2 separate regions of the Homo sapiens genome follow, and region 1 is linked to region 2. A link means that fine-mapping ties the variant in region 2 to the expression of a gene that starts in the linked region. Tissue or cell type: fibroblasts. Region 2 holds a variant in brackets; the other region holds the start of a gene. All regions are shown on one strand. Distances are from middle to middle.

The links. PIP is the estimated chance that this variant, and not a neighbour inherited with it, causes the effect.
Region 1: it holds the start of RC3H1, and the variant in region 2 is fine-mapped to the expression of RC3H1 in fibroblasts (GTEx, PIP 0.96).

Annotation. Positions count from the first base shown.
Region 1 is chr1:174,017,842-174,025,841 of GRCh38, reverse strand. It overlaps RC3H1 (ring finger and CCCH-type domains 1), which reads left to right and starts at 3,485. Exons shown (of 20, transcript NM_172071.4): 1 at 3,485-3,746. RC3H1-DT (RC3H1 divergent transcript) reads right to left here and starts at 3,359. Exons shown (of 2, transcript NR_187284.1): 1 at 3,202-3,359; 2 at 2,652-3,059. RefSeq lists silencers at 3,250-3,499, 3,610-3,929 and enhancers at 4,136-4,675, 4,740-4,859.
Region 2 is chr1:173,975,933-173,984,148 of GRCh38, reverse strand. It overlaps RC3H1 (ring finger and CCCH-type domains 1), which reads left to right. Exons shown (of 20, transcript NM_172071.4): 4 at 492-731; 5 at 1,247-1,422; 6 at 3,140-3,340; 7 at 5,529-5,661. Among named protein-coding and RNA genes, the nearest start is that of RC3H1, 42 kb to the left of the region's middle. The variant A/GA (reference allele first, on the strand shown) is at 4,031.

The DNA.
Region 1 (8,000 bases), 42 kb before region 2:
CCCAGGCTGGAGTGCAGTGGCGTGATCTCGGCTCACTGCAACCTCCGTCTCCCGGGTTCAAGCAATTCTCCTGCCTCAGCCTCCTGAGTAGCTGAGATTACAGGCATGTACCACCATATCCAGCCAATTTTTGTATTTTTAGTAGAGATGGGGCTTTGCCATGTTGGCCAGGCTGGGCTCGAACTCCTGGCCTCAGGTGATCCGCCTGCCTCGGCCTCCCAAAGTTCTGGGATTACAGATGTGAGCCACCTTGCCTGGCGTCATTAATCTTTTATAAAAATTTTTTTTTAATTAAATGGAGACAAGGTCTTCTATGTTGGCCAGGTGGTCTTGAACTCTTGGCCTCAAGCAATCCTCCTGCCTCAGCCTCCTAAAATGCTAGGATTACAGGCATGAGCTGCCATGCTCAGCCTCATTTAATCTTATTTGTATTAATTCACAACAAATCTCAATACTCTAACAAGAGTAAAAACATTTTAAATAAAATTTTTAAAAAAAGCTTATTTCCCTAGCTAAATTTTCAAATAATTGTTAATTTAGGAATAAAACCCAGAATATCTTTTTTCCCCCTTGCTGAATATTCATATTATCTTTATTTTAAATAGACTCAATTTCAAGAGATAAATTATCCTCTGTATCTTTTTTTTTTCTTTTTTTCTTTTTTGAGATGGAGTCTTGCTCTGTCGCCAGGCTGGAGTGCAGTGGCGTGATCTCGGCTCACTGTAACCTCCACCTACCAGGTTCAAGCGATTCTCCTGTCTCAGCCTCCCAAGTAGCTGGGATTACAAGCGTGCACCACCATGCCCAGCTAATTTTTGGTGTTTTTTTTGAGACGGAGTTTCATTCTTGTTGCCCAGGCTGGAGTGCAATGGCACGATCTCGGCTCACTGCAACCTCCGCCTCCCAGGTTCAAAGGATTCTCCTGCCTCAGCCTCCCTAGTAGATGGGATTACAGGTGCCTGCCACCACGCCCAGCTAATTTTTTTGTATTTTTAGTAGAGACGGGGTTTCACCATGTTGGCCAAGCTGGTCTTGAACTCCTGACCTTAGGAGAGCCACCCTCCTCAGCCTCCCAAAGTGCTGGGATTACAGGCGTGGGCCACAATGCTCTGCCAAGACCGAGTCTTGCTGTCATCCAGGCTGGAGTGCAGTGGTACAATCTTGGCTCACTGCAGCCTCTGCCTCTCAGGTTCAAGTGATTCTCCTGCCTCTGTCTCCTGAGTAGCTGGGACTATAGGCGCGCGCCACCACGCCGGGCTTTTTGTATTTTTGGTAGAGACGGGGTTTCACCATGTTGGCCAGAATAGTCTGCATCTCCTGACCTCGTGATCTGCCTGCCTCGGCCTCCCAAAGTGCTGGGATTACAAGCGTGAGCCACCGCTCCCGGCCTTATCCCCTGTATCTTACACTTCTAGTCTGACTGGGGAGTTGAAAACATATGACTTCTCACAGATTAGTTTTTTATTTTTTATTGTAAGCATAAGTGTTTTCTTCAAAGCTGCTCTTCTTTTTCTGTCAAATGCATCTTTATATCACTAAAATGAATTTGGGTTTGGGGAAGCGCCGCCATTTTTAACTTTTTTTTTTTTTTTTTTTTTTTTTTTGAGACAGAGTTTAGCTCTTTTTGCCCAGACTGGAGTGCAATGGCGTGATCTCGGCTCACTACAACCTCCACCTCCCAGGTTCAAGTGATTCTCCTGCCTCAGCCTCCCGAGTAGCTAGGACTATAGGTGCACGCCACCACACCTGGCTAATTTTTGTATTTTTAGTAGAGATGGGGTTTCTCCACGTTGGTCAGGCTCCGGACCTCAGGTGATCCGCCCCCCTCAGCCTCCTAAAATGTTGGGATTACAGGCGTGAGCCACTGCATCTATCTGTCCTTTAACGTATTTTTAATTGAAATATTGACGAGATAAAAATAAACAACGTAAAAATCATACTGCTTAAGGGAACCTTTAAGGAGCCTTACCAACTGTGGTATAACTATTAATAGTTCAAAGAAATTACATTATCTAGGTTACTTGCAATGGAAGTTGAGTTACTCGCTTCACCTAAACAAGGAAGTTGGCATGTTTGCCTAGCAACAGTCGCTAAAACCTTCTGTTGTGGAAGGTTCCCTAGGAGTGAGAAGAAGGGAGGAGGAGGAAAAGCAGGAGGAGCAGATTAATCTGTTTTTCCTAGCAGGGTACAGAGGCCTGGTCTGAGAAGGGAAAGGCTTTAAGAGATCCCTTTAGATTGGCACATGCTAACCTAAATCCCCCTGTGGTAGCTAGAAATTCACTCTCTGTAGGACTGGGGTTACTATTTAGTAGGCTGAAAAGACGATTACAGATTAAACCCAGTTCAGAGGCAGCAAATTCCAATCAGTGGAAAGACAACAATAGGTCTTCTAAACAGAAGCTGAGATCTCAGTAGCAGGAGGGTGCTAACAACTAAAAAGAATTCTTCTCTGCCAAGAGTTTAGGAAGGTGTGTGATATTTCTTAAAAATAATACAAAAACACTATCTGTGATAGCGATTCCAATGTATCAAGTTAAAGGCAGAAGTGCTTCTCTTGGGGTACTGTGATGTAAACAGTGAAGAAAGGACAGAAAAACATAATCTCTGCTCTCTTGGTCAAATCCTGAAGCAAAAAAGGTGATAGCGCCGAGTAGAGGTATTAAATGGTTGTTTATTTGGGGACTCTCTCTCTCCTCTATTCTAGATGATTTATTTTGAAATTAGTACTGTATGGTGTTACAATAATCCCATTTCTTCCCCTTCTCAAAAGCGAGGGTTTGGCTAAAATGAATTGTCTGAAGGGACCTCCCATTCCCCAAAACCAAAACGGCACCTTTTCCACAAGGGACAAGAAACTTTTAAAGAGTCGCAAGGTTAGATTTCAGGAGCCCTTCTATGGGCCATATCTTTTCCTGTCGTCCCCAAATAGCTCTTATTGTTCACACAGCCCAGGAGAGACGTTTTGGAGTAGCGTGTCCGGGCCTTTTGGGCTGTTTCACAGCCTTAGGAGGCTGAACTCCCAGAGGGGTGACGAGGACAAAGCTGATGAGATCCAGAACCTGGATAATATGGAAGAAGAAAAATGGGGTGGGGGACAAGACGTGAAAAAGAAACAAGAGTTGGGGGACAACGGCTGAGAAAGCCGAAAGAGTAGACGTAGTGTGGGGTTCGATGGAAACGAAAGAAATTCCCCCAATTTACTCTCGCCATCTGGCCACTGGCCCGCTGAGCCCAAAGGCGCCGGTGCGGGAGGGCAGACCGGACCGAGGGACCGGTTCATCTGCTCAGGGCGTGTGAGACTTTCGGTCGCGGCGGAGAGCGTCGCCGGTCTCCCTCCGGGCGTTGGTGGCCGGTGACTCAGAGCTTTGCTCCCGCGCCCGCCCCTCCCCTCCGCCCGCCCCGCCTCCTGAGGGAGGATCCTCGCCCTCGTCTCCGCCCCAGTCTCCGGGGCGGGCCGGAGCCTGAGGAAGAGGAAGGGGACGAGGACAACGAGCGACTGGGCGGCGGAGGACGAGGAGGAGGAAGAGGAGGCCGAGCAACAAGATGGCCCCTGCTGCAGGAGCAGCCTCAGCAGCAGCAGGTGGGAGGCCGGAGGCGGTGCTGGCGGTGGCGGCGGCAGCCGTGGCCCGGCGGCCTGGGACAGAATCAGAGTCAACGGTGGCCTCGGCGGCGGCGGCGGCTGCCGCGGCGGTGGCGACGGCCGCGGGGACTCGGAGCTGAGAGGAGCTGCTGCTCGGACCAGCGCGGTGAGCGAGCGGCGGGCGGCGACTTGGGGAGCGGGGCTGCCGCGGCCGGGGCCTCAGTCGGGAACAATAGGCAGCTGTGGTCGGGAAGGGTTTGTCCTCGCCCGCCCTCTGCTCCTCCGCGGCAGCGGCAGCCCGGCCGGCCCCAGGCTCCTCAGGGCCCCCGCCGGCTGTTCTGGGGCTTGTCAGTGGCCGGCGTCCTTTAGGCCTCAGGCCTCTGCATGCCGCCTGTAGGGCCTGTCGGGGTAGGTAGGCCGAGAGGAGGACGAAGGGAGGCTCGGACGAGAGGGAGGGGGCGAAAGGGCTACCTGGCTCCTGTGGTACTCCCAGGGCCTGGGCCAGGCGGGGAATGCGCACGGGAACTGCTTTTTGGACCCCTAGTCTGTGGGGGTGGGGGAGGGCGAAGGCGTCTGTAAACAGGCGCCGCCTCGGCCTCCCAGCACCTCAGGGCTGCTTCCTCCCCCAGCCCCTGAAGCGCTCCCCTTCTTTGGCCAAGTGGATTTCACGGTGTCTGTTTCCCTGAAGTCCCTGGAGATCTAGCCTGGTAGTCTTCTCCCTGCTGGCGATGGGAAAATTGTGTGTGTGCAGGTGTCTTTAAAAAAAAAAAACAAAAAACTTAAATGCAACAAAAACATATAAAATGTGGTTATCGGTAAAGGATGGAGTGGTAAGGGATGCGCCTCTCTAAACATCTCTAAGTATCAGTTCTATAAACATCAGTTATGCCCGCATCCCAGGTGAGAGTGGATTGAAACAAGGGCTCTTTTGGAACAGTAATAACACAACTCTTGACATACCAGAATAGCCTATGAAACTGGAAACAAACACTGGCAACGCGGAGACAAACTGTAATGTTTAAAGAGGACTTTTATTCCAGCTAGGCGTTTTGAATTACTAACATGCAGTATAAGAAGCAACATTAACTAGCATAAAGTGGACCTCAGGAAGCACTTCGAAAGGAGACAGGTGGTTCATCTCCGGCCATAGAGCTTCTTGTGCCTTGTCTCGTGTTTCAGTAATTTTTCCTGAAATTGTTCAAGACCAGTCTTTTCTCTGAGTTTGAAATTTGATTTCGTTTTTGTTTTGTTTTGCGACGGAGTCTTGCTCTGTCACCCAGGCTGGATTGCAGTGGCACAATCTCGGCTCACTACAGCCTCCACCTCCCGGATTCAAGCGATTCTCCTGCCTCACCATCCGGAGTAGCTGGGATTACAGGCGCCCGCCACCATGCCCGGCTGATTTTTGTATTTTTAGTAGAGACGGGGTTTCACCATGTTGGCCAGGCTGGTCTGGAACTCCTGACCTCAAGTCATCTGCCCTCCTCCGCCTCCCAAAGTGCTTGGATTACAGGCGTGAGCCACCTCGCTCAGCCTTAAACTTAATTTTTCAAGGCTTCTACCACATTTTCTTACAAGTGAGGGAAAAGGTAGATTTATTTCTAAAGTACTTTCTACCTAGGTATGCAGAAATTTATATTAAAATCGCTTGGATACATCCAAGGAGATTGCTTTTCACTTGTTAACATTCAACTGCAAGGCCTAAGGGTTATAGGTTGTGTTCTTTTCAGCACTGACCTGTGCTGAAAAGATGCCAGTTAATATCTTTCACCTCTTCTAAGGGTAAATTTCTAAGTAGAATTGGTCCAAGTCTGTTCTAATTAAAAACATTATAAGCAGCACTAGTCTAGTTCTTAGTTCTTCCACAACAATTGACACTGAATAGATTAGCAATTGAATAAACATAAAGGTTGAATTTTCTTGTTTAGGATTTGAAGTATAGTGAATGAATATCAATACTGACCTTCATTTTATGCTTAGCATAAATAATGTTGGAGATGTTTTGATTTTTTGAATGATGGAGAAATAACAACTTTCTATGGCTCCTGATGTTGTGACTTTTTTGCAGATATTTCAGAAAGGACACCGTTTTTCAGGTGCTCAAATCTGTGATTTTTTTTTTTTTTCTGTGCTAATTTTGTTAGGTCAGCACAGATTCCAAGTAAAGTCTGTGTTATAATGATACTTAAATTTATGTATGGCCCTAAACCTATTAGAACAATTGTAGTAATTTATAGGTTGTAAGTTTTAAGTGGTTCATGTGCTGTGTTATGAAAACAATCTCACCGTGTTATGTCAAGGGCAGATTTACCTCATATTTAATATCATTTTCCTGAAAATAAATATTTTTAAGTGGTAAGGTTTTGTATTTCAGATTGGTTATTGACCCAGCAATTTATGGGCTTAGTCTGGGTCCGTATTTCTGTTCAATAGGAAAAAAATTTAGGGAATTGTTTTTATTTATTTTGTGTCAAAACAGTTTTAAGTTTTGACACAAACTCAACTGTCCCTTCTTCAGTATCAATACTTATTACTTAAGTTCACATTTTCTCAGGTAATAAAAATTTACTTCTAAGAAGTTTTGGAACCAGAGCTTAAGAATTAGATTTATATTTTCTTGGTAATATTAAAAGTTAATATATGCTTGATTTATTTGAAGAAATAAAAAAGGGTAATTTGTACACAACGCCTTTCAGAACATATTTGTTGAATGAATAAAAATATTTAAGCTTCCTCATTATGCTGCAGTATTAGTTCTGTTGTCCTCATTTTTTCATATGAAGAATGTGAAGCTAAGAGTAGCTATGTAACCAGCAAAAAGATCACATAATTAATAGGTAAAAGAGCTTACTCAGACTCAGATCTTGTGACACAAATTAGATTCTTTGCCACTACCACATGTGTCACAGTTAAACTTTGAAGCATCTTCTGTGTTGACAGATTCCTTTTTTTGCCTGTGAACTTACCCTATTATCATTATTTGTATCCTGTCAGATATCTACTTGTAAGACCAAGAAAGTATTTGTTCATGTGAATCACAAAAGAAACACTTAAATTTTTGTTTTTAGCATATCTGAATGCTATAAAATATAAAAACTCATACTGTTTACATAGGACAGATTTATCATACTGCTGTAATTGTTTTCATGGTTAATTTGTTACATAGGCAATTACTAAATTGTGCCTTTGAAATACTTTATAAATTTTTTTAAATAATTAAAGATATTCAATGATGTTAAAGTTGGGTCAGCTAATATTTGAAGTTCTTAATTTATAATTTTTTTTCTTTAAGCCATAGATAATTTAGAATTCTGCAGTATTTTTCATCTCCAGATCTTAGGGCTTGAAATGGATTCTGATGGGTCTAATCAGTCCACTCTTGCATATATCTTGAAAATGGTCAGCATCCAACAAAGTGAAGAATAAACTGATAAATGATCCCTGTTTGGTGAACACCTCAGATCAGGATGTTCCTTGGCAGGGTATTCTGACCTGGTTTAGCTTTGGCCCCGTCTGTGCTCAGGGTTCAGGTATTCTGCAGGATTGGGTTCAGAGGGATTAAAATTCTCAGATTGGCCTGTATCAAAACAGTCACAGATTTTGGTCAGCCTTTTCCCAGAACCGTCTCCAAGATTTTTTCTTTTGTGTAATTCTGGAATCTAGGCTGGATTTGGACTAGCTTTAGAGGTTATGATAAAAGATTAATTTTGTCAGGCATTTATACAAAGGAGGTTTTCTTACTACAGAGTTTCTTAAGGTAGATTCCTTCTATTTTTGAAGTGTGACATTTACCAATCTGAAGTAATGTTGCCCTACATCCCCCAGACACTTAACTTTAGCATATTTATTTCTGTCCATTTTTGGTCAGGATTGTGCCTGTTTACTTATATAATATTCTTGTTTACTTTTTGTTTATTAGATACTTCTTATTAGTTTATATTGTTTTCCTGATTGAGGCTTGGGGAAAGAATTTTCCTCAAATTTAAAGTCACCTTACTTATTTGCAGATGTATGTCAGAGCAATATTCTTTTGACAGTTATCAAGCATTTTAGCAATGCTGTATGTATATATTATGAATGAATGACAGAGTCACTCATGGTCTGTCACCCAGGCTGGAGTGCAGTGGCATTATCATAGCTCACTTCAGCCTCAAACTCCTTGGTTTAAGTGTTATTCCCGCCTTACCTGGCTACTTTTTTTAATTTTTATTATTTTTATAGAGATAGCATTTTGCTGTGTTGCCCAGGGTGGTCTCAAACTCCTGGGAGCAAGGTGATCCTCCCACTTCTGCCTCCCAAAGTGCTGAGATTACAGGCATAACAATGTTTTAAACTGACACTGGTATACCTTCACTGATTATTACTGTGCACATGTGGTAATAATTTAACTTATAAGTGCATTTTATCTAAAAAATTTCCA
Region 2 (8,216 bases):
TCCATCATTTGACAATTCTGAATGGTTTGCCTTCTATCCAGTTTTATATGCTATGCTATAGGCGGTATAATGAATACGGAAGTTGCCATTACTGCACAGAAAGGGCTTGCTATTTAATTAGGAAAATAAGGTTAACCACTGTCAAATAATATACCAGAACTCTTAGGACTTCAAGATTTACATTATAAACTAATTATCAATGTTGTCTAGTCCTTTTTTCTTTCTTCCTCTATGATTAAAATGAGTAATGGTATATTTAATGTCATAATGAATGCTAAGTGCACATGAGATAACTCATGTATACATTTGTATACTTTAAAAATGTATACTTAAGTAAGCTTTACATGTGTGGTTTTATTTGTTGCTTATTTTAAATACTCTAGTAGTCCCAGAACTAGTCACATACCCACAAGTTAACCCAACAGAAGAATTGCTCCTGGACTGTAAAATTGCATTGTGAACCTAGGAATAACTTCTTTACTCTTTTAAAGGAGTGGGTCTGAACAGCACTACTCAGAGTGTTCTGAGTCGCCCAATGCAGAGGAAGCTTGTGACTCTAGTCCACTGTCAACTAGTAGAAGAAGAAGGCAGGATTCGTGCCATGAGGGCAGCTCGATCTTTAGGTGAACGAACAGTTACAGAGCTCATTCTCCAGCACCAGAATCCTCAGCAACTCTCTTCCAATCTTTGGGCAGCAGTAAGGGCTAGGGGATGCCAGTTCCTTGGACCAGGTACATAATTAACTTTAGGTATTTATTCTGCTGGTAATTCTAAAAGTATGATGTAGGAATTATAAGTGATGTACAAAGCCTAGTTCTTTGCAGTATTTTATTGTTACCAACTAATATCTTGTTTGATGTTCATGGCTTGGGCAATTCCATGTAACTTAGTGGACTTACTAGGTGAACTTAGTGAACTTAAAACTTTTCTCTTAATGCCAAAAGTTGTTTCTTTTTTTAATTTTTTGATTTTTCCTTTTTTTCACACCTGTAGCAGGAAGTTCATTCATTTTGATAGAAGTTTTTCTTAAATTTATTAATCACTTTATCTGTTTTCTTTATAAAATATATAGAATGTAATACAAAATTGCTCACAAAAATGGTGTAAAAGTGTGTTGCTGGTTAATCTTAACTGTATTGCCAGTTAATTGAATAGCTGCAGAAATGATTAAATATTCCCCTTCTAATAAATGGATTTATCTTATCTATGTACTTGATAAATTTTGGTTTTGCCCAACTTTCCCTAGCAATGCAGGAGGAAGCTTTAAAGTTGGTTCTGCTGGCCTTAGAAGATGGTTCTGCTTTGTCAAGAAAAGTATTGGTTCTGTTTGTGGTGCAAAGATTGGAGCCACGGTTTCCTCAAGCCTCTAAAACTAGCATTGGGCATGTTGTTCAGCTCCTTTATAGAGCCTCCTGTTTCAAGGTATGAACCTACATTAAAGCTCAGCTTGAAAGGAAATATTGTTCTTTCCCCAAAGTTAAGTAGTAAAACTTTGAGTTTAATAAAGTTGCCTGTATCTTTTCAGAAAATCTCAGCAATTTTTCTTTATTCTTTTAAAGAATGTAGATGGGGTCTTATTATAGTTAAATACTATTATATTGAATTTTTGTATGTTCAATATTGAACAACATAGATCAAGTCAAGGTTTATAGATTTTTGTATTTGAAGAGACTAAGAAACTATATCAATTTCTTACCAAGACTGTGCAGAATTGGTCTGAAGAGAGAGTTATTGAAGCACAAATAAATTTTATTTATTTATTTTTATTTTTTTGAGACAAAGTCTTGCTGTCGCCCAGGCTGGAGTGCAGTGCATGATCTCGGCTCACTGCAACCTCCACCTCCTGCGTTCAAGCGATTCTCCTGTCTCAGCCTCCCGAGTAGCTGGGATTATAGGCAGGGCCACTGCACCTGGCTACTTTTTGTATTTTTGGTAGAGACGGGGTTTCGCCATGTTGGCCAGGCTGGTCTCGAACTCCTGACCTCAGGTGATCTGCCCGCCTCAGCCTCCCAAAGTGCTGGGATTACAAGCGTGAGCCACCGCGCCCAGCCAAATAAATTTTATTCAGAGATTTTCTCCTAGTGTAATTCCACATATACAATAATGAAGTTCCATTTGCCATTTCAGTTTATATGGTAATGCTGGACATAGTCTCTTATCCCAAATTGAATAAGCACCGCCTCAAACATTGCTACTCACTATGTATCATTTATTGTACATCCAGTATTATTTTTCTGACTTTTTTTTTTGAGATGCAGTCTTGCTCTGTCGCCCAGGCTGGAGTGCAGTGGTGTAGTCTTGGCTCACTGCATCCTCTGCCTTCTGGGTCAAGCAATTCTCCTGCCTCCAGCCTTCTAATCATAATCATTATGATTATTCTAGTCTAGCATCTCACACTTTACACTTTCTGGTAGTAGCCCATCCCACAAAACTCCATGAAGAATTAAGCCAAGTACAAATTAAATCATTTTTAGAATTACACCAGCATCTGAAGCTCTACAGTCATCAGTCCCACCTAGCTCATTGTCAGGCAATCCCAAGAGTCATAATCCACATTTATGGAGAAGAAACATATTGTTTTTCAGAATATAGAATTGTATTAGTATTTTTTTCTTTTCAAAAATACATATACACACACATACACCTTAAACTGAATGTATATGTTAAAGTATGTCAAATCTTTGGATTTCATTCCAGCACATACAGATTGACTATACAAAAATCCAAAATCCAAAACTTTTTGAACACCAACATGATGCTCACATGCTCATTGGGGCATTTCAGATTTTCAGAGTAAGGATGCTCAAGTGGTTTAATGCAGATATTCTAAAATTTGAAAAAATCTGAAATCTGATAACACTTCTGGCCCAAGCATTTTGGGTAAGAGATTCTCAGCCTGTATTTATTCTTTCTGAAAGACCTATCCAGAAAATGTTGGCCTAAATCCAACTTGACTCAGAATGGGATGATAGCAATATACCTACCTCAACAAGTTAAGGAGAAAATATTTTGCAGGCAAATGGTATATTCATTTAATCTTGCTGTTGATGCTAAATTTGTTACATTAAAAATTATATGTTCATATAAAGCATAAACTCATTTTTTTGACTTCATTATGAGATTATTTGTGTCTTATTAGGTCACCAAACGTGATGAAGACTCTTCTTTGATGCAGCTGAAAGAAGAATTTAGAACCTATGAAGCTCTGCGGCGAGAACATGACTCCCAGATAGTGCAGATTGCTATGGAAGCAGGCTTACGAATTGCACCGGACCAGTGGTCCTCTTTGCTTTATGGAGACCAGTCTCACAAATCTCATATGCAGTCCATTATTGACAAGGTAGGACCTTTTTTGTTCCTTACTTCTTAGACTAATCTTGGCATTTTGGTAATTCATTTAACAAATGTATATTAAAGTGAATACTGTATAGCTTTTGTAAATTGTATTTATAGCCAGTGTCATGTCATAACCAATCACGTTATAATACCACTTTGTTCATTTAAAGATTTGATTAGTTTATATTTTTTATTTTACTTATTTTATATTTTATTGTATTTTTACTAGAATCACAGAGATGAAGGCCAACTCTAGAGACCACTCTACATTTAATTTAGAGAAATAGAGTCAAATAGTAAGAGTAACCTAAAAAAAAAATAATGAACATTTACTAAAATCTTAATATGTATCTAGTGGTTTTAAATAATTCATTTAATCCTCTCAACAGCCCTGTATTATCCATTTTAGACAAAGACAAAGGGAAGTTAATATGTTTTTCCAGCATCACATAGATAATAAATGACAGAAGTGGATTTGAACTTGACCATTCTCAGTGTAGAGTACACTAACCTTTTACCAGACTATTCCCCCCCACCTTTTTTTTTTTTTTTTTTTTCCTATTTCTAAAGATAGAATTCCTTGAATGGGTAATACAGTGAGAATTGGGAAATATGTTTTTTAAATGCTTGGTGTAGGGTGGGCACAGTGGCTGATGCCTGTAATCTCAGCACTTTGAGAGGCCAAGGTGGGGGG[A/GA]TTGCTTGAGGCCAGGAGTTCAGTCACAGCCTGGGAAACATTGGGACACTCATCTCTACCAAAAAAAAAAAAAAATAGCCAGGTGTGGTGGTAGGCGCCTATAGTCTCAGCTACCTGGGAGGCTATGGTGGGAGAATCCCTTGAGCTCAGGAGTTTGAGGGTGCAGTGAGCTATGTTAGCACCTCGGCAACAGAGTGAGACCCTGTCTCTTTAGGGGGGATAAAAAGGCGGTACATAATTTTCAGTTACAATGTAGGTTGTTTGCTCTGCTCTATAAGTCTTCCCTGGATACCTTTAACCAGACTTTACCTGCAACTCTTAGGTTTGGACAGGAGCTTGTATCGGAAGTTTTGCAACTCATTTATAATTTACGGAAACGCTTAACGCTTAGTAATGATCTATTAGAGGAGTACCTTTCTACCTCTGAAGAGAAACTTGGCTTTTTTTGTTTGTTTGTTTGTTTGAGACAGAGTCTCACCCTGTCACCCAGGCTGGAGTGCAATGGCACTATCTCGGCTCACTGCAATCTCTGTCTCCCAGGTTCAAGCGATTCTCCTGCCTCAGCCTCCCAAGTAGCTGGGATTACAGGCACGCACTACCACACCCTGTACCACGCCCAAATTTTTTGTATCTTTAGTAGAGACGGGGTTTCACCATGTTGGCCAGGCTGGTTTCGAACTCCTGACATCGTCATCTGCCCACCACAGCCTCCCAAAGTGCTAGGATTACAGGCGTGAGCCACTGTGCCTGGCCTGGCTTGGCTTGTCTTTTATAAAGATTCTACAAGGTGGTTAATCTTGTCTGAACTGAACTGTGTAACTAGGTGTATATCCTACAGTAATTTTCTCATATCACACGCAGTGCTTTAAATTTAATATCCAGAGACCTTTGCACAACAAACTGGTAAACTTTGCAGTGTGTGTGATATTTTATAGAGCAATAGAACTTTCTGTAATCATGAAAATGTTCTGTGTATGCACTGTCCAATATGGTGATCACTAGTCACACACGGCCATTAAGCATTTGAAATGTGACTTTTGCAACGGATGAACTGAAATTTTTATTTCATTTAATTAACTTAAATTTAAATAGCCACATATTGCCAAGGTCACCATATTGGATAATAGAAAAGAGAATTTATTAAAAGCGATGAGGAAAGCACTAATTCTAGTAAATTAATGGGGAGAGAAACAGGAATTAACAATTCACAAAGAAGACTCATCAGTATATCTAATTGATGGTAGGCTGAATTGAGAGAGGTCTCACATTTGAAGAATGTGACAGCAGAGGCAATACAGTACACAATGTGCCAAGCTCTGGATGCAGAGAAGTACAGAATTTATTTGGGTAGCAAGTAATCTACTCTGGCCAAAGTGTAGGGTATATGGGAAGATAAAAATTAAATTTAATAAATCGCAAAAATGATTGTGATATAAATAATCTTTATATTTAAAGGATTATCTGACCTTTGGGAAAGTTAACATTTATCTTTTTTAAGTTGCAGACTCCAGCCTCTTTTGCACAGAGTGTTCAGGAACTAACAATTGCTCTCCAGCGAACTGGAGACCCAGCAAACTTGAACCGACTAAGACCCCATTTGGAGCTGTTAGCAAACATTGACCCTAGTCCAGGTAAACCCACGGGAAATTAATGGACTATCTTATATGTGCCTTTCGTGCTGCTCAATGATTCTTTAATTATCTTTTGTTGTTCCTCTAGGGTTTCCCAAAGTAGTTACTCCAGATCTTTTTTACAGTATTTTAAGTTTCCATTTTAAATCTTTTCCCTCTTTATCTCAGGTTAGTTCACTTTAATATTTATTTAATACTTTTTATACTGTTGCTCATTTCATCAGGAAAATAGATTTCTCTGGGCTTCTTTATGTTTCTTCTTTCTCCCGTCACAAAATTGTGTTGTATTTTACCATTCTTACCTCTTCCAAATCTCGTTTTTCTCATTTTTTTCTGTATTATGTATCCTTAGTTGCATTTCCTTGATCCTGTTTTTGCCCTCTCCATGATATCTTGTTCCTTCAAGTATCCTGTCTTGTATATCTTTACTTAGGCTTTTTCTGCTCCTTCTCCGTAACCTGAAAATATACCCAACCTTCATTTTTCAACTTGCACTTACATCTAAGTTATTTTAGCTTCTCTGTGTTTATTCCTACTACTGATCTGAAGCTCTCTTAATATTCACTAGTAGATTCCCAGTCTCTGATTCCAAAAGCTTTGTCTTAGTCTTTAAATCACTCCCATTTGTTTTCAGCATTTCGATAATGTTGTTGAGCACTTTTTTGATATCTTTCTGTGATCTCATAGTTCTCTTCTGACCTGAGTGCTACTTCTGTCTTATTTGTACCATGCCTTCCCCTCCTGCCCACTAAAGAGTAGGCAGGTTATGCTCTTGGAATTTTGTTTTCTCTACATGCTCTGATGGTGGTTATTCATTCTTAGCATCAGGTATTACCTTAGTGTAGAATACAGACTCCCAAATATCTCTATCACTATTATCTCTGCATCACTCCAGATACATCTCCCAGTGCTTGCTGAGATTCCCCATCGTGTCCTCTGAGTGCTTCAAAGCAAGCTCATCATTTCTTGATACTTGCTCTTCCTTTAATGTTTCCTCTTTCTGATAATGACCTCATTCTCTGAGGTATGTAAGTTTAAAACCTTAATGTTTTGTCTTGTCTCATCTTTTCCTTTCACTTGTTCTACATACTGTTTCATACAATGGGATTTATCTGTTCTTCTTTCACAATACCCCTATATCCCCTGCTTATAATTAATTCCTTTGAGAGCCTCCTTTTTCCTGAGACTGAATGTCTTCCAAGTTCCTCTACTATGAGTTCCTCCAATCCAGTCTACTTACTGCTGTAAAAGAAATCACATCCCTGGCCTGACACAGTGGCTTACGCCTGTAATCCCAGCACTTTGGGAGGCCGAGGCGGGCGGATCACGAGGTCAGGAGATCGAGACCATCCTGGCCAGCACGATGAAACCCCGTCTCTACTAAAAATACAAAAAAAATTAGCTGGGCATGGTGGCGGGCGCCTGTAGTCCCAGCTACTCGGGAGGCTGAGGCAGGAGAGTGGTGTGAACCCGGGCGGCAGAGTTTGCAGTGAGCCGAGACTGCACCACTGCACTCCAGCCTGGGCAACAGAGCGAGACTCCGTCTCAAAAAAAAAAAAAAAAAGAAATCACATCCCTGATCTTCCTTCCACACTCATAAACTTTCATTGTTTGTAGAATTGCTTACGGAATAAGGTTTGACACTCTTGACTATGGCATTCAGAGCCCTCTTAGTTTTTTATCAGCCTACTTTTATAGATTTGCTCCCAAAATTGCTTAGTAAACCAGATCAATGTTACTAGAATATATAGTGATTTTTTTCCCTGACTGCTGTCCTTTGATCATCCTGAGCAGTCAAAAGAGAACTTTCACAAGTTCCTAAACCATTTTTGACCCCATTTCTCATCTACCTACCACTTCATTTCTTTTTTTGGCACACTCTTGAACTCAACTCCAGTCAGGCATTTATCTCCACTGCTCTATCCAAACTTATTTTGTCAAGGTCATAAATTACTTCCATGTAGCTAATTCCAAAAGTCAGTTCTCAGTTCTTACTGTACTTGATTTAGCAGCATTTAACTTTTTTTTTTTTTTTGGAGATACAGTTTCACTCTGTCCCCCAGGCTGGAGGCAATGGCAAGATCTCGGTTCACTGCAACCTCTGCCTGGTTCAAGCAATTCTTGTCCCGAGTAGCTAGGATTACAGGCTTGTACCACCACATCCAGCTAATTTATTATTCTTATTATTCTTATTATTTATTTTTAGTATCTTTAGTAGAAACAGGGTTTCACCATCTTGGCCAGGCTGTTCTCAAACTCCTGAACTCAGGTGACCCGCCTGCCTCAGCCTCCCAAAGTGCTAGGATTACAGGCATGAGCCACCATGCCTGGCCATTGTTCTGTACTCTCTCTTCCTTGAAATGCTTTTTTCTTGGCTTCTAGGCTACTAATTCTCTTCTTTATTGGACTCTCCTCAGCATCCTCTGCTTTCTCATCTTCATATCCTGTACTCTTTGGAGTGTTCTCAGAGTTTAATCCTATATCTGTTTCCTAGATAATCTTATCTATCCCATAGCTTCAAATATAATTTATGTAACTCACAAATTTACTGTATT